Regions from separate parts of the Homo sapiens genome. Here regions 2, 3, 4, 5 and 6 are each linked to region 1. Evidence: fine-mapped expression QTL. A gene starts in region 1. Each other region holds a variant in brackets. All regions are shown on one strand. Distances are between the middles of the regions.

Region 1 (4,091 bases):
TCCTCCTGTCTCACTAGCCACCTTCTGGCTGGATACTCCGCTACTGACCTCCAAAATACACATTTATTGATCTTTGATTGAATAAACAGACCCTTCCTGACTACCTTGTAATTTCAGCAGCAAATATGACCCAAAACTGGAAGACCCTCTCAATCTATTCTGGTTTGAGGGCTGCCCAATTAAAAAGGAAAAAAACTGGCCCAAAATATCATTAAATGGTAAAATCAGGATCTTATCCTCATAAATCCATAGATTATTACATCCACTAGCGACCTAGAGACCACTTACCTTTTTTTTTTTTTTTTTTGAGACAGAGTCTTGCTCTGACACCCAGGCTGGAGTGCAGTGGTGTGATCTCAGCTCACAGCCGCCTCTGCCTCCCAGGTTCAAGCAATTCTCGTGCCTCAGCCTCTCCAGTAGCTGGGATTACAGGCATGCCCACCACCATGCCCAGCTAATTTTTTGAAGAAAAGAGGTTTCACATGTTGGCCAGGCTGGTCTCGAACTCCTGGCCTCAAGTGATCCACCTGCCTCAGCCTCCCAAAGTGCCGGGATTACAGGTGTGAGCCACCGCGCCTGGCCTGAGACCACTCACCTTAATGTGTCTAGAAAACAGGCAGGCCAGGCGCAGTGGCTCACGCCTGTAATCCTAGCACTTTGGGAGGCCGAGGCAGCCAGATCATTTGAGCCCAGGAGTTTGACACCAACCTGGACAAAATGGCAAAACCCCGTCTCTACCAAAAATACAAAAAAAAAAACAAAAAACAGAAAATAAAAACTAGCCGGGCGTGGTGGTGTGCACCTGTGGGAGACTGAGCTGGGAGGATCACTTGAACGGGGGAAGTGAAGGTTGCAGTGAGCTGTGATAGCACCACTGCACTCCAGCTTTGGTGAAATAATGAGACCTAGTCTTAAAAAGCAAGAGGCCGGGCGCGGTGGCTTACGCCTGTAATCCCAGCACTTTAGGAGGCCGAGGTGGGTGAATCACAAGGTCAGGAGTTCGAGATCAGCCTGGCCAGTATGGTGAAACCCCGTCTCTACTAAAAATACAAAAATTAGCTGTGTGTGGTGGAGCGCGCCTGTAGTCCCAGCCACTCAGAAGGCTGAGGCAAGAGAATCGCTTGATCCCGGGAGGCGGAGGTTGCAGTGAGCCGAGATCGCACCACTGCACTCCAGCCTGGGCAAGGGCGAGACTCTGTCTTTAAAAAAAGCAAAAGAAAACCAACTTGTAGAAAGTCACTGAGCTGGAACCAGAACTAGAATAGGGCTCTACTCTTTCTGGGTCCAAAGTTCTTTAAATCAGCAACCCCTCTTACTGCCTATGTAAGGGTATACCTTTAGTTCCTGTTGACTTGGGATGTACAAAGAATGAGGTAGTCTAAGAGAGTAACAGCACACTGGCTGTGGAGTCAGAAAGACTCCACCTCTAAACTTTGTTTCCATCTCTAAACTTTCCAGCAGTGTGGCCTAATTTTTCTGTACCTTAGCTTTGTCGTTATCACTAGAATCCTTCACAGGGCTGCAGAGTGGATTAAGCAAGAGTGCACAGGACTCAGACATATGACCGCTGGTAATTGGCTTTTATAAACTGTCAAAAAATATAGACCTGTAATGCCAGCACTTTGGGAGGCCGAGGCAGCAGACTGATTGAGCCCAGGAGTTCGAAACCAGCCTGGGCAACATGGCGAGACACTCTCTACAAAAAATACAAAAATAACCGGACATGGTGGCACGTGCCTGTAGTCGCAGCTACTCAGGAAGCTCAGGAGGCTGAGGCAGGAAGTTCGCTTGAGCTCAGGAGGTCGAGGCTGCAGTGAGCTGTGATCGCGCCAAATGCACTCTAGCCTGGGAAGCAGAGCCAGACCCTGAATCTAAAAAAAAAAAAAAAAAAAAGCTTATTAAAGGAGGCTTAGCACAGCTACCCGATGACGCCCCCGGGCATTGCTGTCGAGCCACAGGGAGCTGGCGCCACACGGGACTGGCGCTCTTTGCAACGTCCCTCAAGCACTTAAGGAGAGGCGGCAGGGCCCAAGCGCAGCGGCTAGAAAATCCTTCCTTCCGGCAGGACCCTCGCGTGGAGCTCTGCAGCGAACCCTGGCCGCGCGGCCTCCGCCGTCGGGCCCCACTCTTCCTACTGGGCCCACAGTTCCGGCTCCTGCTCTGACTCCAAGAAGCCTTACCTCGGGTACAACGCGCTGCCTTCTCCCTGGGAACTTCCGGCAGGCCAACTTCCCTGGCCTTTTTAGTCTCCCCTGTGCCCTCCCACTTCGCCCTCTGGTTCTCTCCCCGCCCCTGGCCCGAGGTCACGCCCTCACCGAGTCCTAGGACACGCCCCGTGGGTCCTTGCCAAGCCCTACCTCTTCGTAGGACACGCCCTTCAAACCCTTGCCACGCCCCACCCTGGTCCGGGGCCGTTCCCCGCGTTTTTGCCTGGCCACACCCTCCTGCAGGCGCTGTCTGACTGTCGGTAGTTTGGCTGAATGAAAAAAATTCGGGGCTAGATCCCCAAACGGAAAGAAACTGTTGCATTTTCCCCAGATCCCAGTTCTCCATAGAACAGTCTGGAACAAGGGAGCATTCCGTAGCTCTTTTGGTTTTCCCCAAGAATAAATCGGAGGTGGTGCTCTGGCAATTTGATGTCACAGTGGGTTCTGGATCCTCATGCTGCATACGGAGAACTTTGGTTTTTGTGTTCCCACTTGTCACTGTTTCCTGCCCCGGTGCCGCGTTTCCTTCTCTTTAGAATTAGAGTGCCGTGCTAGAGCACTTGAACTGGCCCTGGTACTTGCTGTGACTGAAATAAACTTAGTATGTGTGAGTCTGTTGGCAAAACATGATGCTTGGAGCAGCTGCCACAGTAAAGAGTCATACCTTTAGGTATTGTAGGGGGCCAAGGGCAAACCTCTCCTTCGTCCTCTGAAAGTTTGCTGAAAATCAACTGACAAAAGACAGTTTCACAGTAGAAAAGGCATACAAATATACTAGATCGTAACTTTATGTGATCCGGGAGCCTTCAGAATGAAAACCCAAAGATGCAGGGGAAACGGTCCATTTTTTCGCTTAGGTTCAATAAAGTATGGACCGCCATGTATTCAGCTGGTGCAAAAGTAATTGCGGTTTTTAATGGCAAAAACCGCAATTACTTCTGCACCAACCTAAGAGATACTACGATGGCATAAAAAGGGTCTGAGCTAATGCCAATAGACTAAGTGAGCAAGCCCTGTCTGTTTAGATTCTTTTTGGCTTTTCTGTGCAGTGTTCCTTCCTTCTGGGTATAGAGCAGGATCCTTTCTGGAATGGGGGTCTTATGACCTACAGTCAAACAAAGCAGGGCAGAGAATTTCTTTACCGCCAGTTTTGACACAGAAAGGCAGGGGACACGCAGAGTCAAACTTTTAGGTTTTATGCTTGGCTTTGGGGATGAGGGGTTCTGGCTTCTGTGAATCACCTTGGGGAAGAGGGATTCCAGTTTCTAGAATGAGGGGCCAGAGGCAGGAGGACATGAGGTTAGAGAGAGCTGCTTCTAAGGCCTTCATTTTGGGGTATCATTTTCTGAACCCCAACCATATTACACTGTCATCAATTATTATTATTATTATTTTGAAATGGCTCTGTTGCCCAGGATGGATTTCAGTGGTGCAGTCATAGCTCACTGCAGCCTTGAACTCCTGGGCTCAAGGGATCCTCCTGCCTCAGCCTCCTGAGCAGCTGGGACTACAGGTGTGCACCACCACACTCAGCTAATATTTGTAATTTTTGTAGAGATGGAGGTCTCGCTATGATGCCCAGCCTGGTCTCAAACTCCTAAGCTCAAAGGATCCTCCCACCTCAGCCTCCCAAAGTGTTAGGACTACATGCATAAGCCACAGCACAAGGCCTAGTCAATTAATTTTATCCTGAATTCTGAGAAAAAAGAGAATAGGTATGCAGATGGGCAGAAGCTACAGATGTCATTTCAAAGGAAAGTAGAGTTTTAATAATAATATTAATAGATGATGTTTATCGGGGCCAACTCTACCAGGTTTTGTAATGGGTGTATGTTATTTTGTTTAAGATTTTGAGCAACCTGCATGTGGCAGGAGCTATTTCCC
Region 2 (4,091 bases), 860 kb before region 1:
ATTATAACTCATTTTTAGCTAGCTTTTAAGCAGCCTACATGGTCTCTGGATGCAAATTAGAAAATTGAGCAAGAGATGAGAGTCAGCAGATTTTCTCTTCCAAAATATCATTCAACACATTTACTGCAGTGAATCAAACAAAACAGAATTCTTTGGTCTTCAGAAGTCTTTGGTTTCTTCTGTATGCCTTAAGAAAATGTCAGGGTCATTCATTTTTGTCACAGCCTTTCTCAGGATTATTACAAAACCCTGGAAGGTTTTAGGGTTCCCCTGTCTTCTCTCCATTTCCAGCAAAGGGGTGAACACTGGTTTTTAACACATCTTCAAGCAGAGGACTCTATAGGCTTCCTATGACATGTATTCCAAGGATGTTTTTCTTTCTTCTGCATAATAAAATTTGGAATCAATGAATTCTGACCTTAAGGACTTCACTACATTTACTGGTCGAGCCACGAACCTGGAAGTATTTTGTGAGCTCTCAACCTTGGCACTGTTGCAAGGCAAGTGACATGGTTTTGCTGTGTCCCCACTCAAATCTCATCTTGAACTGTGGCTCCCATAATTCCCTTGTGTTGTGGGAGGGACCTGGGAGGAGATCATTGAATCATGAGGGCAGTTTCCCCCATACTGTTCTCATGGTCGTGAATAAGTCTCATGAGATCTGATGCTTTTATAAGTGGATACCTCTTTCACTTGGTTCTCATGCTGTCTGGCCTGCCGCCACGTAAGACATGCCTTTCACCTTCTGCCATGATTGTGAGGCCTCCCCAGCCACGTGTAACTGTGAGTCCATTAAACCTCCTTTTCTTTATAAATGACCCAGTCTCAGGTATGTCTTTATCAGCAGCATGAAAACAGAGTAATACAGCCAGACACAAAAACAAACCAGCCACATTACAGCATCCCATCACAGGTAACAAGTTTGACTTTTCATTCTAGTTCCTCAGTAGAAAGGCAGTAAAATTGTATGTATAATATTAGGCACTTGGAGGTATGACCTGTCAACCTCTGAGACAACGGGGATGGCAAAGCACCTCCGTTTAATAAAGAGCAGTATGAACTGGCACTTCTGACATTAAATATAACATCCATCTTTCCCCAGACACTTCACGGAAGCTAGATTCCTGATGAGACAATGATGTCATTCCCATTTTATTTTTCATAGATCTACAGTCTCAAAGCTTAAAGCTGGCATATTTTTTTTGTTCCCAATATTTCAACCATATGTCAGATTCACGGAGTTGATGAACTCAAGTCCCTTGGCATGCTGAGGGCTCTGCCTGCTTAGCCACCCGCCAGGTCTCAGAAGAGAGCTCAGAGATGCCTGCCCTAAGAGGTTGGCTGTCCTCATCTCTAAAGTTCTCTCTTTCATTCCCCCAAATCAACAAACCAGTGATGACTACTTTGTCCAAGACAAGATGGGAGGGGAGGACATTTTAAAGGCAGGATGGGGCTGGACATCGTGGCTCACACCTGAAATCTCAGGACTTTGGGAGGCCAAGATGGGAGGATCGCTTGAGCCCAGGAGTTCAAGACCAGCCTGGACAATGTAGTGAGACTGCATCTCCACAAAAAGTTTAAAAAATTAGCCCACTGTGGTGGCACACACCTGTAGCCCCAGCTACTTGGGAGGCCCAGGTGGTGGGATC[A/G]CTTGAGCCCAGGAGTTTGAGGCTGCAGGGAACCACGACTGCACCACTGCATTTCAGCCTCGGCAACAGAGCAAGACTCTGTCTCTAAATTTAAATAAATAAATACTAATTTTAGATGCAGTTAATTATTTCTTTGAGTTGCCTTGCCCATAAGGCTGTGGGGTAAATGAGCCATGAAAAGTGAGAAGCACATAGGGTCTCAACACATGTAGCCATAGCTGTTTATTACTATTATTATTATCTCACACACATTTCTGTTTTTTTTTTTTTATTTTGAGACAGGGTCTTGCTCTCTTGCCCAGGCTGGAGTGCAATGGAACAATTACAGCTCACTGGAGCCTTCAGCTCCTGAGCTCAAGCAATCTTTCTGTCTCAGCCTCCCAAGTAGCTGGGGATACAGGTGCACACCACCATGCCCAGCTAATTTTTGTTTTTTGTGTTTTTTTTTTTTTGTAGAGATGGGGTCTCACTATATTGTCCAAGCTGGTCTCCAACTCCTGGCTTCAAGCAATCTACCTCCCTCAACTCCCCAGTGTGCTGGGATTACAGGTGTGAGCCACTGTGCCAGGCCTACACATTCCTTTTATAACCTCTAAAAGTGTGGAACAGAGATGTGTCAATGAGAACATCCTAAAAGCTGACGGTACGCAAATGTAACTTGTAGTGAAATAAAGTCAATATTATATATGTAAAGAGACTTCTGCCATTATATTTAAACTGCAATTAATCAAGACTACATCGTAAAGCATCTTATTCTTTTTTCTTTTGAGGTATATAAATGGTTGTCTTTTAGTTTTGATTTCCAAGCGCAGAAATTTTTAGTAGGCACCCTGGACTTCCCCTACATTATTTTTGTTCCAGGGAAATGCAGCTTCTCATAGGTTCTAGAAATCTATACTTGAATGAAGTCATTTTTCAAAATAAAATAATAGAACTGTTTTCAAAGATATATTCAAATGACTGGATTTTTAAAATATTAATCGACATTCAAGAGAGGCAAAATTAATGCACTGTTTTTAAAGTATAAGTCAAGTATTGTTAAGATATTTCAGTCAGGCCAGGTGCAGTGGCTCATGCCGGTAATCCTAGCACTTTGGGAGGCTGAGACAGGAAGATCACTAGAGCCCAGGAGTTTGAGACTGGCCTGGGCAACATGGCAAGACCCTGTCTCTACAAAAGATTAAAAAGTTAGCTGGGTGTAATGGCAAGCACCGGTAGTCCCTGCTACTTGGGAGGCTGAGAAGGGAGGATTGCTTGAGCCCAGCAGGCTGCAGTGAGCCATGTTCACACTGCTGCACTCTAGCCTGGGTGACAGAACAAGAACTCGTCTCAAAAAAAAAAAAAAAAATCCAGGCCACGTGTGGTGGCTCACGCCTGTAATCCCAGCACTTTGGGAGGCTGAGGCAGGTAGATCACCTGAGGTCAGGAGTTTGAGGCCAACAAGGTGAAACTCCGCCTCCACTAAAAATACAAAAATTAGCTGGGCCTGGTGGCAGGCGCCTGTTATCCCAGCCATTCAGGAGGCTGAGGCAGGAGAATCACTTGAACCTGCGAGGCAGAGATTGCAGCCAGCTGAGATTGTGCCATTGCACTCCAGCCTAGGTGATGAAGCGAGACTCCATCTTAAAAAAAAAAAGCCCAATAACTACTTTGTGTTTAAATCCTTGAAAAAGTATAAAGATGCATTTGGTTCATTTGGCGACTAAGTAATGTTTTAAGGAACGAGCAAAGACATCTTTTTATTCTGTGTTTATGGTTTCTCTGCCAATGTGATTCCCTCAAAAACTTAAGAAAAGTCTCTGAAATTTTACTTCCTATCAGTTGCTTGTGTTAGTAACCAAACCTGTGTTCTTTCCTAGATGTAATCATCAAGACCAGTTAATTTTTTTTTTCTATCTCTCCTGCCTCTTTTTTTCCACTTATTTTTAATTACCTTAAGGCTGGCGGGGCGCGGTGGCTCACGCCTGTAATCCCAGCACTTTGGGAGGCCAAGGTGGGCAGATCACGAGGTCAGGAGATCAAGACCATCCTGGTTAACACTGTGAAACCCCCGTCTCTACTAAAAAAAAATACAAAAAAATTAGCCGGGCGTGATGTTGGTCACCTGTAGTCCCAGCTACACAGGAGGCTGAGGCAGGAGAATGGCGTGAACCCAGGAGGCAGAGCTTGCAGAGAGCCGAGATCGCGCCACTACACTCCAGCCTGGGAGACAGAGCGAGACTCCGTCTCAAAAAAAAAAAAAAAAAAAAAAAAAAAATTACCTTAAGGTCGTGCAATGTAGATAAGGCAGGAGGGAAGGCTTGGAAAAGTTGTCATGCTGAATCAAACTTTTGGCAAAACTGTCACTGCTACAAATTGGGAAGAAGACCACATGCCTACTAGAACTGTAGCTTTGAGGAAAGAACTTGGAAATCAGAACATTAGAAGTGTTCATTGCTATCA
Region 3 (4,091 bases), 22 kb after region 1:
GAGATTAGAAATAAAAACCTTAATAGAAGCACAAGCATGTGTTAGTTTAAATTACTCTAGGGTGTGTAATTTCTGGTGAAAAGTAAATAGTATGTACTGGTTTACAAAGGAAGTACTCATGGAATAGTTTACTAAAGAAAAGTAGATTCATCCATCACACAGTACTTTTCTTGAACATTATTTAAGAATTTATGGGGAAAGATATTGTTCTCCAAAAACCACAACAAACAAGAAATGGTAAAAATGGCACACATTAGAAGCTTAATTTTGTTCTAAAACAATGTAAAAGACATTAATATTTGTCTGTATTTCCTTACACTTTAACATGACTTTCCTCATGCCTGTAATCCCAGCAATTTGGGAGGCCGAGGCAGGCGGATCACTCGAGGTCGAGAGTTTAAGACCAGCCTGGCCAACATGGTGAAATCTTGTCTCTACCAAAAAATACAAAAATCAGTCAGATGTGGTGGTGCATGCCTGTAATCCCAGCTACTTGGGAGGCTGAGGCAGGAGAATTGCTTGAACCGGGGAGGCAGAGGTTGCAGTGAGCCAAGATCACGCACTGCACTCCAGCTTGGGTGACAGAGTGAGACTCTGTCTCAAAAAAAATAAAAAATAAACAAATAAATAAATATGACTTTTAAAAAATATTGCTCAGAACTTTCAAATATTGCTCATAAAAACTATAGTTTTAAAGATGTACAGGTCAAATTCTGCTAAGTGAGAGTTTTGATAAACTCCACTCAGTCTGTTTACTGGAAAAATATACTGGGCATATAGTAAATTTTACGGATTATCATAGTGTGAAAGTATTATATAACATAAATACGAAGCAGATCAAATTGCTATTATTATACTGTAATTCAAATTTCTTTTGGGGGAAAAGTTATAGAAAGCAAGCTGTTCTGATTAGAAAAGGTAGGTCAGGTGTGGTGGCTCACACCTGTAATCCTAGCACTTTGAGGGGCCAAGGCGGGTGGATCACCTGAGGCCAGGAATTCGAGACCAGCCTGGATAACATAGTGAAACCCCGTCTCTACTAAAAATACAAAAATTAGCCAGGCGTGGTGGTGCATGCCTTTAATCCCAGCTACTCGGGAGGCCGAGGCAAGAGAATCTATTGAACCCGAGTGGCGGAGGTTGCAGTGAGCTGAGATTGTGCCACTACACTCCAGCCTGGGCCACAGAGTGAGACTCCATCTCAAAAAAAAAGAAAACATAATAAAACATAACTGTGGCCCCATGCCAGTATGCCAACGAGCCTCACAGTGCCTCTGTCCCCATGCTCCGGTGAAAGAACTGGAGTTTTGAATGCTCATCCTCAAACACTGGCTGACCCTAGATTCATGAGAACAAGCTAAATAATATTTTCTACCTTCTAAGAAAAGAGTTAATGCATTTGGGAAAGTTGTTCAATAACAAGGATTGAAATGAAAATGTTTTCTGTTTAACCCAGAGTTAAACAGAAGTTTATCATTGTTAAAAATTACAAAGCACATTCAAACTGACCACAATACCTTTTAGTGAATATTTATACTAACCCAGGAGAACAGGGACTTTTCAGAAAAAGGATACCACAGGAAAAAGGGTGGGCATAGGATGACCTGGGCCTATGGGTTAAAATGCATATCAGTGGGTTCCGCACCAAGAGATTCTAATGCATTCATTTAGGCTTAATAATTTTCCCAGTCAAAAATCATGACCCCTTGGCCAAGTGTGGTGGCTCATGCCTGTAATCCCAGCACTTTGGGAGGCCGAGGCAGGTGTACCACCTGAGGTCAGGAGTTCAAGACCAGCCTGGCCAACAGGGCGAAACTTCTTTTCTACAAAAAATACAAAAAAAATAGCCGGGTGTGGTGGCACATGCCTGTAATCCCAGCAACTCGTGAGGCTGAGGCATGAGAATGGCTTGAAACCAGGGGAGGCGGGAGGTGGGGGGAGCTGGGGGTCGGAGGTTGCAGTAAGTCAAGATCGCGCCACTGCACTCCAGCCTGGGTGACAGAGGAAGACTCCATCTCAAAAAAAAAAAAAAAAAAAA[AAAG/G]AAATCATGACCCCTGACTGGGGCTGTGACTTATGTCCATAATCTGAGCACTTTGGTAGGCCAAGGCAGGAGAATTGCTTGAGGCCCCAAGTTTGAGACCAGCCTGGGTAACATAGTGAGACCCACCCCCCCCACCCACCTCCTCACCCTCATCTCCACAAAAAATACAAAAATTAGCCAGGCACGGTGGTGCGTGCCTATAGCTCCGGTTACTCAGTGGGCTGAGGCAGGAGGATTGCTTGAGCCACAGAGGTCTAGGCTACAGTGGGTCGTTATTGTGAAACTGTACTCCCAGGCTGGGAGGCAGAGGGAGCTCAAAAAACACACACAAAAAAGCAAAAACAGATGAAGCTACCCCTCCTATCCTCACCCCCACCCCAACTCCCTCTGATGGTTTTCATGCAAGAGGTCTGCAAATGCACTTTGAGAAACTCTGCCTGTATCTTATTGTCAAGTTGTTAATATTTATCTTTATAAAATGTATCCTAAATATATGCATGCAGAATTCTGGATCAGAGATAGATTTCATATCAAACACCTCATAGTAAATGTAATAAGTGCGCTGGTACCCCTAGCTTCAGTCTTACTCCTGAGGTAACGTGATGAGAGCCAGGTCAATTGTCCTACAGGAGAAGGCAAGAACAAGGAAACTGATTTCTCCTGTTCCTAAAAGGGTAGGAGGCAGTTGCCCCCTCCGCTCCTGAGAAAGTCTCCTCCTTATCCAATCCTTTTGTGTGGAAATAAAATCTAGCCAGAAGCTGGATAGCTTGGGTGTCTCTGCCTTAATGATCTTGAGACTTCTTTAAATTCCCAGCCTTGGCAGGATGTGGTGGCTCACACCTGTAATTCCAGCATTTTGGGAGGCCAAGGCAGGCTGATCACTTGAGACCAGGAGTTCGAGACCAACCTGGCCAACATGGTGAAACTCCATTTCTACCAAAAATACAAAAATTAGTTGGGCATGGTGGTGCAGGCCTGTAATTGCAGCTACTTGGGAGGCTGAAGCATGAGAATTGCTTGAACCCTGGAGGCCGAGGTTGCAGTGAGGCGAGATTGCACCACTGCACTCCAGCCTGGGCAACAGAGAGAGACTCTGTCTCCAAAAAAAAAAAAAAAAAAAAAAAAATTCCCAGCCTTGTTTCTCTCTGAAATGCAGATACCTAGAAATGTAGTATTGCTGCTTCTCTTGCAACTTGGGCTCAGCCTAAGGTACCTACTCAGGCTGTAACTCTTTGGTTCACCTGGGGAGATAAGAGAAGTTAGTACTGTTTCCGATCAGAACAATTAACTAGACAAATGGCTACAGATGAAGGCTAGGGCTTCTTATAGAAACACCGAAAAAAATTCAGGGAAGTTTTCTTTTTCGCCTCTTATTTACCAGGAGGAGAAGGAAAGAGAAACTTTCTAGCTGATCAAAGCTGCAGTAGAAGAAATTCTTTCACGTGGACCTTATGATTTAGCAAATTCAATAGTGCCTGTGCTCTATTGGGATGGGTTATGGAACTTGTGTAAAACCCTGGTGGATTTAAGCTGTAAAGCAGCCATTTTTATGAATGGATATCCAGTAACAACAACTGTCAGGAAGGCAGGAAGGCAGGAAGGCAGGTAAGAAGGTCTAAATAGGAGGAAAAGGAGACTAAGCAACAAAGGACAACGGAGCCAGTCCAGGGGCCCAGTATAGTGGCTCATGCCTGCAATCTGAGCACTTGGGAGGTCTGATGTGGGAGGGTCACTTGAGCTCAGCTCAGGAGTTCAAAATCAGCCTGGACAACACAACAAGACCTCATCTGTCTTTAAAAAAAAAAAAGAGCATTTTCTTTCTTTCTTTCTTTCTTTCTTTCTTTCTTTCTTTCTTTCTTTCTTTCTTTCTTCCTTCCTTCCTTCCTTCCTTCCTTCCTTCCTTTCTTTCTTCCTTCCTTCCTTCCTTCCTTCCTTTTTTTCTTTCTCTTTCTCTCCCTTCCTCCCTTTCTCTCTCTCTCTTTTTCTCCCTTTCTCTCTCTCTCCTTCTCTCCCTTTCTCCCTTCCTCCCTTCCTTCCTTCCTTTCTTTTT
Region 4 (4,091 bases), 780 kb before region 1:
GTCACTATTTGGGCAACGATATCATTAGAAGCCCAAACCTCAGTATCACACAACATACCTATGTAACAAACTTGCACATGTACCCCCTAAATCTAAATTAAAAAAAAAAACTATAATACTATACCTAAAAATAAGTTAAATTTTGTTGAGAAAAAAAATGATCCTATCTACTTGGGGGAGAACAGAAAATGTCATTAGAAAAGATAGTATTTGAAGAATAAGTACAATTTCTACAGCTTATCATGGCAAAGAAAGGTTGCTCTAGTGCTGACCAAACAGTATAAGCAAAAACTGGGTGGGTGGCAGAGTGCTGAGGACATTTAGGGAACAGGAATAATCCCAGGGTTGCTGGATTATGGAGTATTTGTAGGGGAGAAAGGGAACTGAAAGTTAACGTGGGGCCATGCGTTGGATGAGTAAATGCCAGGAAAAGGAGTTGATAATTAATGTGGTGGGCAGAGGGAATGCATTGTGAATTTCAACTAGGAGAAAGACATGCTTGTAGCTGTATTTTAGGGGTGGAGAATGAGGCTGATTTGAGGTCTGCTTGAGGTAGATCAAGTGGATGGTAAAGGGAGCCTGACGCGGAGATGATTTAAGGAATTGTGATGTTTAAGGGCTAGGGGATAAGAAAAATCGAGTGGGCTCTGAGCCTTGTGAACAGGATAATTAAAAGAATAGATGCGGCTGGGCGCAGTGGCTCACGCCTGTAATCCCAGCACTTTGGGAGACCCAGGCGGGTGGATCATGAGTTCAAGAGATGGAGACCATCCTGGTTAACATCGTGAAACCCTGTCTCTACTAAAAATACAAAAATTAGCTGGGCCTGGTGGTGCCCGCCTGTAGTCCCAGCTACTAGGGAGGTTGGAGCAGGAGAATCACTTGAACCCAGGAGGCGGAGGTTGCAGTGAGCCGAGATTGTGCCCCTGTACTCCAGCCTGGCGACAGAATGAGGCTCCATCTCAAAAAAAAAAAAAAAAAAAAAAAGAAGAAAAAAGAAAGAATAGATGCATTCCAGACAGAAATAATTAGTTGGAAAGTTAATTTGAGTTGAAAGACGGTTAATTCAGGTCCCTTAACCTGGAAATATCTTCCCTTCTCTAGTCTATATAAATTATAGTCTCATGAAGGTGAGCTATAATTGGATAGTGTGGTTTTACATTATGCAGCAGTGGTCTCCAGCCTTTTTGGCACCAGGGACCGATTCCATGGAAGACAATTTTTCCATGGACCAGGCAGGGGGATGGTTTCAGGATGATTCAAACATTTCTATTATTATTACATTGTAATATATAATGAAATAATTATACAACTCACCATAATGTAAAATCAGTGGGAGCCCTGAGCTGGTTTTCCTGCAACTATATGGTCCCATCTGGGGATGATGGGAGACAATGACGGATCATCAGGCGTTATGTTCTCGTAAAGAGCGCACAACCTGGATCCCTGGTATGCACAGTTCACAGTGGGGTTCACGCTCCTACAAGAATCTAATACCCACCGACCACTATCAGACCATAGCCCAGGGTCTACAGCATTTCTAAGCACTTCTAATCTCTTCCCTTAAAGGAATAAAGTAGATGGTCTTTTATTGTCATTTAGCTGCTTTGAGTGTGTTAGTCTTGTTCCCATAGCTAGTATAAAATCATGAACATCACGATTCTCTAAAACAGTGTTTAAAACATCAGAAGGGAAAGAAAAACCTTAAAGACACTTTCTGGGAGGTATCTTTGAACATTTGAGGGGGAAAACATAGCTAACAATTCCCTGTAGACTATAAGTGATTTTTTAACTTCATCAATGTCTAATTCACAGTCTATGACAGAGGAAAGAGAAGGTGGTAAGTATGTAGGGGGAACACAAGAGTTTAATTAACAAATGGAGGAGAAATCTAGTGCAAAAATAAGTTCCAGCTGATGTTGGACAAAGAATTAAAGCCAGATTTTCAGTATTAGTTCACTTGATCAAAAAACAGTAACAACCAAAAACAAACAAAAAACCCATCAATCCAGTTATAAAAACCTCATGTCACTTGAAAGAGCCCTGAATGACATCATCCCAGTTTAGTTACTGGCTGAGTTAGACTACCATAAGAAAACTAGCAGGTATTTGCCCAGTGGCCTATAATGTTGTTTTTCCTTTTTTTTTTTTTTTTTTTTTTTTTTT[TG/G]TAGACAGAAAAAGATTATGCCACAGCTAGAAAATTTGCCAAGTGCAATTGGCGTCTTGGGAATTTACTCTGCCTACTTTGAGGAGGTCATGTAGTTCCCCAGTGGTAGAATTTTTTTTCTCAAGATATTTAGGTAAGGGACCTAATAATAATTTTGTTTAATAGCACAATTTTCTTTTTTAACTTTTATTTTAGGTTCAAGGGTACATGTGCAGGTTTGTTATGTAGGTAAATTCGTGTCATGTGGGTTTGTTGTATGGCTGATTTCATCACTCAGGTATTAAGCTTAGTATCCAATAGTTATTTTTTCTTATCTTCTCCCTCCTCCCACCCTCCACCCTCAAGTAGGCCCCAGTGTCTATTGTTCCCCTCTTTGTGTCCATGTGTTCTCATCTTACCTCCCACTTATAAGTGACAACATGCAGTATTTGCTTTTCTGTTCCTGCATTAGTTTGCTAAGGATGATGGTCTCCAGCTGCATCCATGTTCCTGCAAAGGACATGATCTCTTTTTTTTTTTTTTTTTTTGAGACAGAGTCTCACTGTCTCCCAGGTTGGAGTACAGTGGCACGATCTTGGCTGACTGCAACCTCTGCCTCCCAGGTTCAAGCAATTCTCCTGCCTCAGCCTCCCAAGTAGCTGGGATTAGAGGTGCATGCCACCATGCCTGGCTAATTTTTGTGTTTTAGTAGAGACGGGGTTTCATCATATTGGCCAGGCTGGTCTCGAACTCCTGACCTCAGGTGATCTGCCCACCTTGGCCTCCCAAAGTGCTGGGATTACAGGCGTGAGCCACCGTGCCTGGCTGATGTTCTTTTTCATGGTTGCATTGTATTCCATGGTGTATATGTACCACATTTTCCTTAGCCAGTCTCCTATTGATGTGCATATCAGTTTATTAATTTTCTTTTAAAGAACAGATAAATTTATAATGTAAATTTTTATTTGCCTTTATGGTAACCTGCGACATTGGAAGGGGATTATTGACCATCTATATAGTCATAATCTCTTTCCTCTAAATCTGCAAAATATAATGGAACTCCATCTTATGTATTTCAAAACTGATTAATGAATTGACTGATATTTTCAAAAATGGACAATTGGGAGATACTTTAACTCTGGCATATCACATTCACTCAGCCAGTGAAATGATTTTCTTCAGTATATTAAATATTATATTTAATTGTGAATATGTTTGATAAACTCAGAGTTTAAAATAAACCTCTCAAGCTTTGGTTTTTGTGTATAGTGACAAAGATCAGTGTGATTTGCAGAGGTTGGAAATGAAAATCAAAGACAAATTCTAGAAAAAAAATAACACAAAGTAACCCTAAATGAAGCCATGTAGCAAATGGAAGGAAATATAAAATGACATAATGACAATATGCAAGGATGAAAAGATAAGAAAATTCATTAACATTACAATGAGATATAAGTAAAGAAAGACCATTCAGAGTTAACTAGCAGAATAAAGGATTTGGCAGCCCTCTTTGTAATTCTACCATGACGATTTCCAAACCACTGAATAAGGTTTTGTATTTCTAATTAGCTAAGTACTAGAAATATGTTCTCTAATGTGACTCATATGGATATGTGGCATATGGACAAAAAAATTCTGTGGTACTCAAGCTTAATATAGATTAAGTACATGTTGTTTGAGACATAAATTATGAGAAGTTTTTCCGATACAATATTGTAATTTACTTGAATGGCATCTCTAGAACTTCAGACAGGTGTGATAGAATACGCTGCAGAGATATTTATGTGTTTGATCAGGGTTTTTCTTTTTCTTTTTTTAAGACAGAGTCTCACTCTGTTGCCCAGGCTGGAGTGCAGTGGCACTATCTCAGCTCCAACCTCTGCCTCCCAAGTTCAGGCGATTCTCCTGCCTCAGCCTCCCAAATAGCTGGGATTACAAGTGCCCA
Region 5 (4,091 bases), 76 kb before region 1:
CAGCCTCTGCCCTCAAATCAAGCCACATATTTAGAATCTCCTAAGTGTAAGTGGATATTCAACGAAATCATTCAAAAATTCTTGAAACTTGAGAGGCCTCAGAGCATGAAAATTTAGTCCTTTCTTTAACTTTTAGATATGTTGAGGTTAAATTCTTGATTTAAATGCACATGTCATAGTTAAGTAATAAAAAGACACGATGGAAAAAAGAACTCTGAAAACTCAGGTGATATAATCAAAGATGTATAAATGAGCTAAGCTTCTGAAGCAGCCTGGTAAAGGGGGCTTTACATGAATTAGATTTGGAAAGCCCTAAATCAAAAGACTTTTTCTTTTTTTTTTTTTTCTTTGTAAGTAGTAGAGGAGTTGGTATTTTCCTGGGTATTTTTAGCTATTACATACCTCAATTTTCTAATAATTGTGGTGAACAGCTGAACTTAGACTTGAACTTCTGTACTCATAAACAGCTGATTAGAATATTGCTATCTGGCTTAAATTAAAATGCAAAAAATACTATTAGTTTCATTTCAAAATGTGATTGGGCATAGGGATCGAAGGAGTTAGAAAAACGAGTGATACAGGAAGATAATAAATTGTATGCATAGTTTAGAATGTGTAGTTAGATAAGACTGCCAGAATGGTCCCCACTGAAGCACTATTTTGTCCCTTTCTGTCCTCCTTCTCACTAACGTAGCGGAAACTGCCACAGCACTATCCTCATAAAGCTCTGAGGTCAACATGGACTTTGCTATGCTAAATTCTGTACTATGGCAGCAAGTCAGCTTGTGATGCTACATGAATGGCAAAAAAGAAAACTTGAGAATTCTCATTTACGCATCCTAATTCTTGTCTGTTTCACATAGGTGCGTGCTAGTGCAATTGCCCAAGATGCTGATCAGAATTACGACTATGCCAGTAACAGTGTGGTTCTTCATTTGGAGCCGGGAGATGAAGTCTATATCAAATTAGATGGCGGGAAAGCCCATGGAGGAAACAACAACAAATACAGCACGTTTTCTGGATTTATTATTTATGCTGACTGATAATGCAGAAACTAAGCTTATTATTCTGAGTTTGAACACTGGATTCGTATGGCTAACGTCAGTGAATCAAGGATCCCAGGGGATGCCAATGGCAGGGCACCTCAGTTGTGTATATGTGGGGAAATCAAATGCTACCTGACTCACATCTGTATCACTCAGAAACATTATGTAAAAAATATCAAAGCAAGATAAGCAGATGTGTGATCCACTACCGCCAAAGCAAATACTCCTTATCGTTAGTGTCCATGTGAATGAAGTCCTATATAGATCACAAATTTTTATAGACAAATCTAAGACATTGAATTATTTCTTCTATATATATGATACTTTGGTGTACTGTGATCTTGCTGCTTTTATCCATATGTCAGCTTTGGTTCTTGTGAGTTTACCTGCTTATTATGATACTTGGAGTCCATTCATAGTGTGGGGAAGAATGATTTTTGCCCTGCAGGAGAAGGTCTAATTGAAATAATGCTGCTTGTCCCCAAAGAAATTGTTTGCCTTGTACTCTTGTTAACCTTAGAGCTAGACCTGGGAATGATTCAACTTCAAGCCTTAACCTGGAATTTTCTGGATTTGAGGGAATTCCCAAGCCTATGATCTTTTTCACATTTTCTTTTTCTTATATGAATTTTCTTTTCTCTCTTTTCTGGTGATAGTCTTTAAAAATAGAGATTGACAGTGTATCATAGGATTACCCTCTAAGTGTGAAAATGTGTAATTATGTACGGTATTTAGAAAAAGCCCTTATGTGTCCATTTTGTCAACTGAATACATTTAGATTCACTGGGAAAGTCAGAGAAATTTATTCTTTAGTATCAAATCAAACCGAGGCTTTTGCCATCTTTGGAAGAAAAGATTATTCATAACCCAATGCACAAAGGTTTAATTTGAGCTGCTGCATACGTCACCAAGGGGACACTAGGTGAGGCCTTCAAATGATTACTACAAGTCTGTGGCCTGAGGTTATTTTAAAATTAACAATTTCGCATATAGCCTATATGACAACAGAGTGTTTATATTTTATACAAATATCTGCTAAACATGCACACATATACTCACACACACATATATATATTAGATGAAATGTTTTATTTATGTATAAAACATATACATATAAAACATTTATATATATGGCTTTATTCCACAGGGCACAGTGGCTGTATAGCCTCAAAATTTTAATATAAAAAAGTG[T/C]ATGCATATATACACACACAAACATGCACAAATTATTTAACTTATTTTGGGTTAAAATATATTTTGAATGACAATATATGGAGTAGCAAAAACAGTTAAAATGACTTCTCTTTAAGAGTTATCCAGAAAATTAATTGTATTAGGTCAAAATGCCCTTTATTTCACAGGTCTGTAAGTTAAGGCTATGGTTGCTCTATTACCATATGCCAATCAATACTTTAACTGCATTCTGTGACAGACTGTTAATATGAGGACTGCAGACACCAAGTGGCTCTCCTTTGCAGTGTTTATGAATTACATGCATTTGAGCTATCAATTTTTTTTTCTTTTTTCTCAGGTGGAGTGAAGCTGACAGTACAGTAGATTTGGAGAGTAATACAAATCCTTTCTTTCTGGTTAGAACACACTGCCAAAAGCCATCTCTTTCATCTAAGGAAAAGATTAAAAATGCATGTTGATATCTCCTAACTATCACACAACTTCCACTATTACAATGAAAAATCTGTTCCCCTTTCATTGCCTCTGAAAACTCTTTGACGAGTAGATTTCAAAAACAGAGATTTTAAAAATTTGCTTGCTTTACTGGTGAAGGACATTTGCATTTTTTTTTTTTATTTATTTAAAGGAATTAGTTTGTTCTCCTGGCTCATTCCTCTTTGTTACTTTCTGTTCCAATACACAGAAAGCTTGATCATCTTTGATCAGCAGAAATATCTTTTATTTAGCAAAGCTCAACTTCCCAAGAGTTATGCATGGTGTGCCTATCTGAAGGTGGTGTTAGCTCTGTTGAAATGCCTGGGTCTGAGTAACTGTCATGATTTTTATGATTAAAAACAGACTCTTCATCAAGAATAATGACTAATTCTAATTGGTCTTTGTGATATGTAAGATAACTCATAAATGAATTGCAATGGATTTTATTTCGAATTAACTATATATTTATCAAAGAGGAACTGGCAGCAAGGGTTTGGAGAATATTTTTAGGTACCAAATAGCATAGTGAGGATTCAACCAAAAGATGAATTTATAAGCAGCAGTGCCCATCACCTAAGTGTTTTAACTAACAGGTTTTAAAAACATTTTATTTACACAAAATATCAGGGCTGGATACCTTTTAAAGAGGAGGCTCAAGTATCGGGCTGTCATTTCCAATAGATCTGACCTTTTCTTCAGATACATAAGCATTATTTTCTCTGTTTAGGTCCAAGGAAAAACAAAAGGTAAAGGAAATAAAGGGAATATACATAAGGCAAACATTTCTCTTTTTTTTTTTGCATTATATCTTACCAATTAATTAAATTGTGGCCTTTGTTATTATAAATGTAATGATTCATTAAACTATATTATGTAATATATTTTGACTTTTATGATTGAATTTTTATAATTCAGTAGTGTTATGTGTTCTTATACAAACTTTGCAAAACAGCAAAATGTATGGCAAAAATAGATACCGGAAAGCCAAAGATATCAAAATCATTTCAGTAGAAGAATATATAGATAGGTGGACAGTATAAAATTAACCTTTCAAAATATTTTTATCATTGTGAATTGGTAATTGTATTACAGTCAGTATCCTTTGGGGAAAAAAGTCTCAAAATTTAACTTCCCTTGTTGCAGAAGCTATTTTACAGTGCCATATTATTCATTAAGCATTAATTAAAGAACAGCAGGATAATTAGTAGGATCATCAATATTACAAGAAACATTAGATCGCTCAAGAAGGAAATAATTTAACTAGAAACACTTTAAATTTTCTCAAGTAGTGCAGCTGATAGATTAGGGAGAAAAACAACAACTCCGCTTAGGGGATATAGACTTTAAATCATTGTTTAGAAATAGGTACTTCTGTATTTA
Region 6 (4,091 bases), 29 kb before region 1:
GTCCCGCTTTATCCACAAAGGGTTTGAGGAGACTCGCACAAAGGAATCATACAATAAAGTAAGAAAACAAAAATTAAAGCAGAAGCAAAGAATTATAAATAGAAGTGGAATTAGCACTAGAAAAGAACAACAAAAATGTGTAGTTAATAGAGGTTAAAAGTCACTAAAAAAAAAAAAGAGCTAAACATTTTCCTGGAAGTTTTTTGTTTTGAGATGGAGTTTTGCTCTGTCACCCAGGCTGGAGTACGGTGGTTTGATCTCGGCTCACTGCAACCTCTGCCTCCCTGGTTCAAGTGATTCTCCTGCCTCGGCCTTCCGAGTAGCTAGGATTACAGGTGTCTGCCACCACACTCGGCTAATTTTTGTATTTTTAGTAGAGACGGGGTTTCGCCATGTTGGCCAGGCTGGTCTCAAACTCCTGACCTAAAGTGATCCGCCTGCCTCAGCCTCCCAAAGTGCTGGGATTACAGTCATGAGCCACCATGCCTGGCCATTTTCTTGGAATCTTTATTTAATATATTTCTGACAATAGATAATTCTGAGATCACAGCACAGCCCTTTTACGGAATATGACATTATTTTCCCAAATCGGAAGAGCTAAAAATTATTAAAAAGCATGGAAAATGTTTTTCCCAAAGTGTTTGGGCTCTGGATTTTGAAGCCAGGTTTGCTTTTTCAACTTTCCTGTATCTTCACACTCCAAGTTCTCAGAAGGCAGCAAATATACTATTTTATTTTACTATTATTATTGAGACATAATTTTACTCATGTAACCCAGGCTGGAGTGCAATTGCACACTGCAACCTCCATCTTCCAGGTTCAAGCAATTCTCCTGCGTCAGCCTCCCGAGTAGCTAGGATTACAGGCACCCACTACCACACCTGGCTAATTTTTGTATTTTTAGTAGAGACTGCGTTTCACCATGTAGGCCAGACTGGTCTCGAACTCCTGACCTCAGGTGATCCACCCACCTCAACCTCCCAAAGTGTTGGGATTACAGGCATGAGTCACTGAGCCCGGCAGCAAATGTGCTATTTTAGATTATTATTCTGTACCCAACTACATAGGAATACATAGCCTTTTTATGTTTTGTTTTTGTTTTTTTAACTTTCCCTTACTATCCACAGTAGTGCCCTCTTATCCAAAGAAAATCTGTTCCAGGGGCCCCAGTGGATGTGTGAAACCGCAAATAGTACCTAACCCTGTAGATACTATGTTTTTGTCCCATATATACATACTTATGATAAAGTTTAATTTATAATTTAGGCACAGTAAAAGATTAGCAACAATAACTAATAATAAAATAGAAGAATTATAACAATATGCTGGAATAAAACTTACGTGAATGCGGTTTCTCTCCTCTCTCTCTTTCTGTCTTAAAATACCTTAATATTTTCAGACTGTGGTTGACTACAGGTAACTGAAACCACAAAAAGCAAAACCATGGATAAGGGGACAGTAGTGTAAGAGCCAGAATCTTGAGCATATAAAAAAATAACAGCAAGTGACTTCATCTCCAAAGACATTTCCTATCTGCATTGGTGGAAGTCAACTGAAAATCAGAAAACTAAAAATACTTAGTAAAGTTACTGCAAGTGACTCATGGCCATAGGTCTTCCTTTATAAGAAGTAAAACTGGATAATGGCTCTTAGGTAAATGTTTTAAATGTATAGACCATCCTCAGGAATTTCTTGCTAAGGCCGTTTAATTTTTAAATAAACTTTGAATCACAGAAAGGCTGTATGATTCAGTTGCACAAATAACAATACAGTATATCTAAAAGGTATTTCCCACACAAGTCTCCCCAGGTCCTTTGAAGATCACACGGTAGACTCTCCAAGAAAAGTCTTGATTTTGGCTACCACGTTTTGTTAATCCAGAGTTGAAAAGAATCAGGCCAGGTGCAGTGGCTCATGCCTGTAAGCCCAGCACTTTGGGAGGCAGAGACAGGCGGATCACTTGAGGCCAGGAGTTTGAGACCAGCCTGGCCAACATGGCAAGACCCCATCTCTACTAATAATACAAAAATTAGCTGGGCGTGGTGGCCCATGCCTGTAATCCCAGTTACTTGGGAGGCTGAGTCATGAGAATCACTTGAATTGGGGAGGCGGAGGTTGCAGTGAGCTGAGATGGTGCCACTGCACTGCAACCTGGGTGACAGGGCAAAATTCTGTCTCAAACAAACAATCAGTGCAGATACCTGTTTTTAGATGGTCTAACCTAGCCTGTTTGGTGTAAAAAAAAAAAAAAGGTAGTTATAACAGAAAAAGGTCTGACAGCCACTAGCAGGGAGCTCAGAGACTTTTCCATTCTGACTCTAGCCCTTGCCTTGCTCTGGTCTGCTGCCTGCCTGGACACCTGCCTGGGAAAGTCAACACCATAATTGATGAAAAGGAGAGTTGTACTTGTAACTAGATTTTGTTTTGATAACTAACTCCATTCCCATACTTGGAACACTAGGTACAACTCTAAGCTATAACAGTGATATGGTTTGGCTTCACGTCCC[C/T]ACCCAAATCTCATCTCAAATTGTAATCCCCATAATCCCTACATATTGAGGGAGGGAACAGATGGGAGGTGATTAGAGCATGGCGACAGTTTTCCCCATGCTGTTCTCATGATAGTTAGTGGGTTCTCATGAGATCTTATGGTTTTATGAGGCAGTTTTCCCTGCTCTCACTTGCCCTCTCTCTCCTGCTGCCATGTAAGACATGCGTGATTCCCCTTCCACCACAATTTTACGTTTCCTGAGGCCTCCCCAGCCAGGCAGAACTATGAGTCAATTAAACCTCTTTCCATTATAAATTACCCAGACTTGGGTAGTATCTTTATAGCAGTGTGAGAATGAACTAATACAAACAGCAATTGCACAGAGGCAGATGATCAATAAATGTCTGCTCAACCAATGAGCAAATATTTCTGTTCTATCCACCCTTCAGTTCCATACTGATGGAATGTAATTTCAGCCACAAGCAAACCTATGTTTTCGTTGGCATTATGTCCTCTTTATAGGCTTGTGACCAATGATCTTTATGCTTCCTGAAATATTAAGAAAAACTGCTTTGATTTACAGATCTGAGGGGGCAACTTCGGTCTTAAGTTCTCAGGGCATAGGAAGGGAATTCAAGGAAATCAGCTTTCCAAACGTGCTAATTTCACCTGCATACATTTCAATTTAATGTTGCAAATGTTTCCTGAGGATCTACTAACTTCAACTGAAGATATGCAGGGAAACGAAGATGAAAAAGAAACAATCCTGGCCCTAGGAGAGGAGCCACCAACACAGTGCCTACCTTAGCACATATATGGTAAGCATTCAATGAGTCACTCATCGTTTTTATATATTCATAGGATACTTACGATACAAAGCAGAGTGCAGTAAATGTCAGGAGAGAGGTACTGATATGGTTTGGCTGTGTCCCCACCCAAATCTTATCTTGAATTGTAGCTCCCACAATTCCCATATGTCATGGAGGGACCCAGTGGGAGGTATTTGAATCATGGGGGTGGGTCTTTCTCATGCTATTCTCGTGATAGTGTTTAAGTCTCACGAGATCTGATGGTTTTATAAAGAGGAATTCCCCTGCACGAGTTCTCTCTTCCCTGTTGCCATGTAAGATGTGACTTTGCTCATCCTTCCCTTCCCACCATGATTGTGAGGCCTCCCCAGCCATGTGGAACAGTGAGTCAATTAAACCTCCTTTCTTTATAAATTACCCAGTCTCAGGTATGTCTTTATCTGGAGCATGAAAATGGATGGATACAGGTACAAAGCAAGTGCCCTGTGAGATCGGTGTGGACAACATTCACTGATACTGGAGGAATGAGAAGGCTTCCTGGAGGAGGTGGCTTGTCACAGAGACATTCTGATGATATGAGCAATGAGGAGCATGTTTCCAGACTTTAAAGCATCCCGTAAAGGCTGATTGTAGGTTGTACATTAGCTTACAGTGAAAAATACTGACACAAGGGCTTGGCCCAGAGGATGAGAACTACATAAGGGCGATCATTAAGTAGGCAGTTGGAATACAGGTTGAAAGCTGGAGAAACCAGAGACCAGGAGACGAGTCAGGAAACACAAGCCTAAATAAAT

Direction of the effects. Alleles are on the strand shown, and positions count from the first base shown. SD is a standard deviation of normalised expression in the study named. Not every link is listed here.
For the expression in B cells of the gene that starts at base 2,218 in region 1, allele G in region 4 goes with a lower level than allele TG (large effect, 1.9 SD a copy in CEDAR).
For the expression in thyroid of the gene that starts at base 2,218 in region 1, T is the low allele of the variant in region 5 and C is the other (moderate effect, 0.57 SD a copy in GTEx).

The links. PIP is the estimated chance that this variant, and not a neighbour inherited with it, causes the effect.
Region 2: its variant is fine-mapped to the expression of PTER in sun-exposed skin (GTEx, PIP 0.96).
Region 3: its variant is fine-mapped to the expression of PTER in whole blood (INTERVAL, PIP above 0.99).
Region 4: its variant is fine-mapped to the expression of PTER in B cells (CEDAR, PIP 0.95).
Region 5: its variant is fine-mapped to the expression of PTER in thyroid (GTEx, PIP above 0.99).
Region 6: its variant is fine-mapped to the expression of PTER in whole blood (INTERVAL, PIP 0.92).

Annotation. Positions count from the first base shown.
Region 1 is chr10:16,435,137-16,439,227 of GRCh38, reverse strand. PTER (phosphotriesterase related) reads right to left here and starts at 2,218. Exons shown (of 5, transcript NM_001261836.2): 1 at 2,181-2,218. RefSeq lists enhancers at 1,624-1,673, 1,694-1,873 and a silencer at 2,294-2,343.
Region 2 is chr10:17,294,551-17,298,641 of GRCh38, reverse strand. No RefSeq gene overlaps it. Among named protein-coding and RNA genes, the nearest start is that of VIM-AS1, 67 kb to the right of the region's middle. The variant A/G (reference allele first, on the strand shown) is at 1,650.
Region 3 is chr10:16,412,662-16,416,752 of GRCh38, reverse strand. No RefSeq gene overlaps it. Among named protein-coding and RNA genes, the nearest start is that of PTER, 22 kb to the left of the region's middle. The variant AAAG/G (reference allele first, on the strand shown) is at 2,039.
Region 4 is chr10:17,218,827-17,222,917 of GRCh38, reverse strand. All of the region lies in intron 1 of VIM-AS1 (VIM antisense RNA 1), which reads left to right. Among named protein-coding and RNA genes, the nearest start is that of VIM, 7.4 kb to the left of the region's middle. The variant TG/G (reference allele first, on the strand shown) is at 2,167.
Region 5 is chr10:16,511,480-16,515,570 of GRCh38, reverse strand. It overlaps PTER (phosphotriesterase related), which reads right to left. Exons shown (of 5, transcript NM_001261836.2): 5 at 1,826-4,091. C1QL3 (complement C1q like 3) reads left to right here. Exons shown (of 2, transcript NM_001010908.2): 2 at 864-1,837. The coding sequence ends at 1,043. Among named protein-coding and RNA genes, the nearest start is that of C1QL3, 8.4 kb to the left of the region's middle. The variant T/C (reference allele first, on the strand shown) is at 2,238.
Region 6 is chr10:16,464,461-16,468,551 of GRCh38, reverse strand. The region is part of intron 1 of PTER (phosphotriesterase related); the gene reads right to left. Among named protein-coding and RNA genes, the nearest start is that of PTER, 29 kb to the right of the region's middle. RefSeq lists a silencer at 2,455-2,655. The variant C/T (reference allele first, on the strand shown) is at 2,508.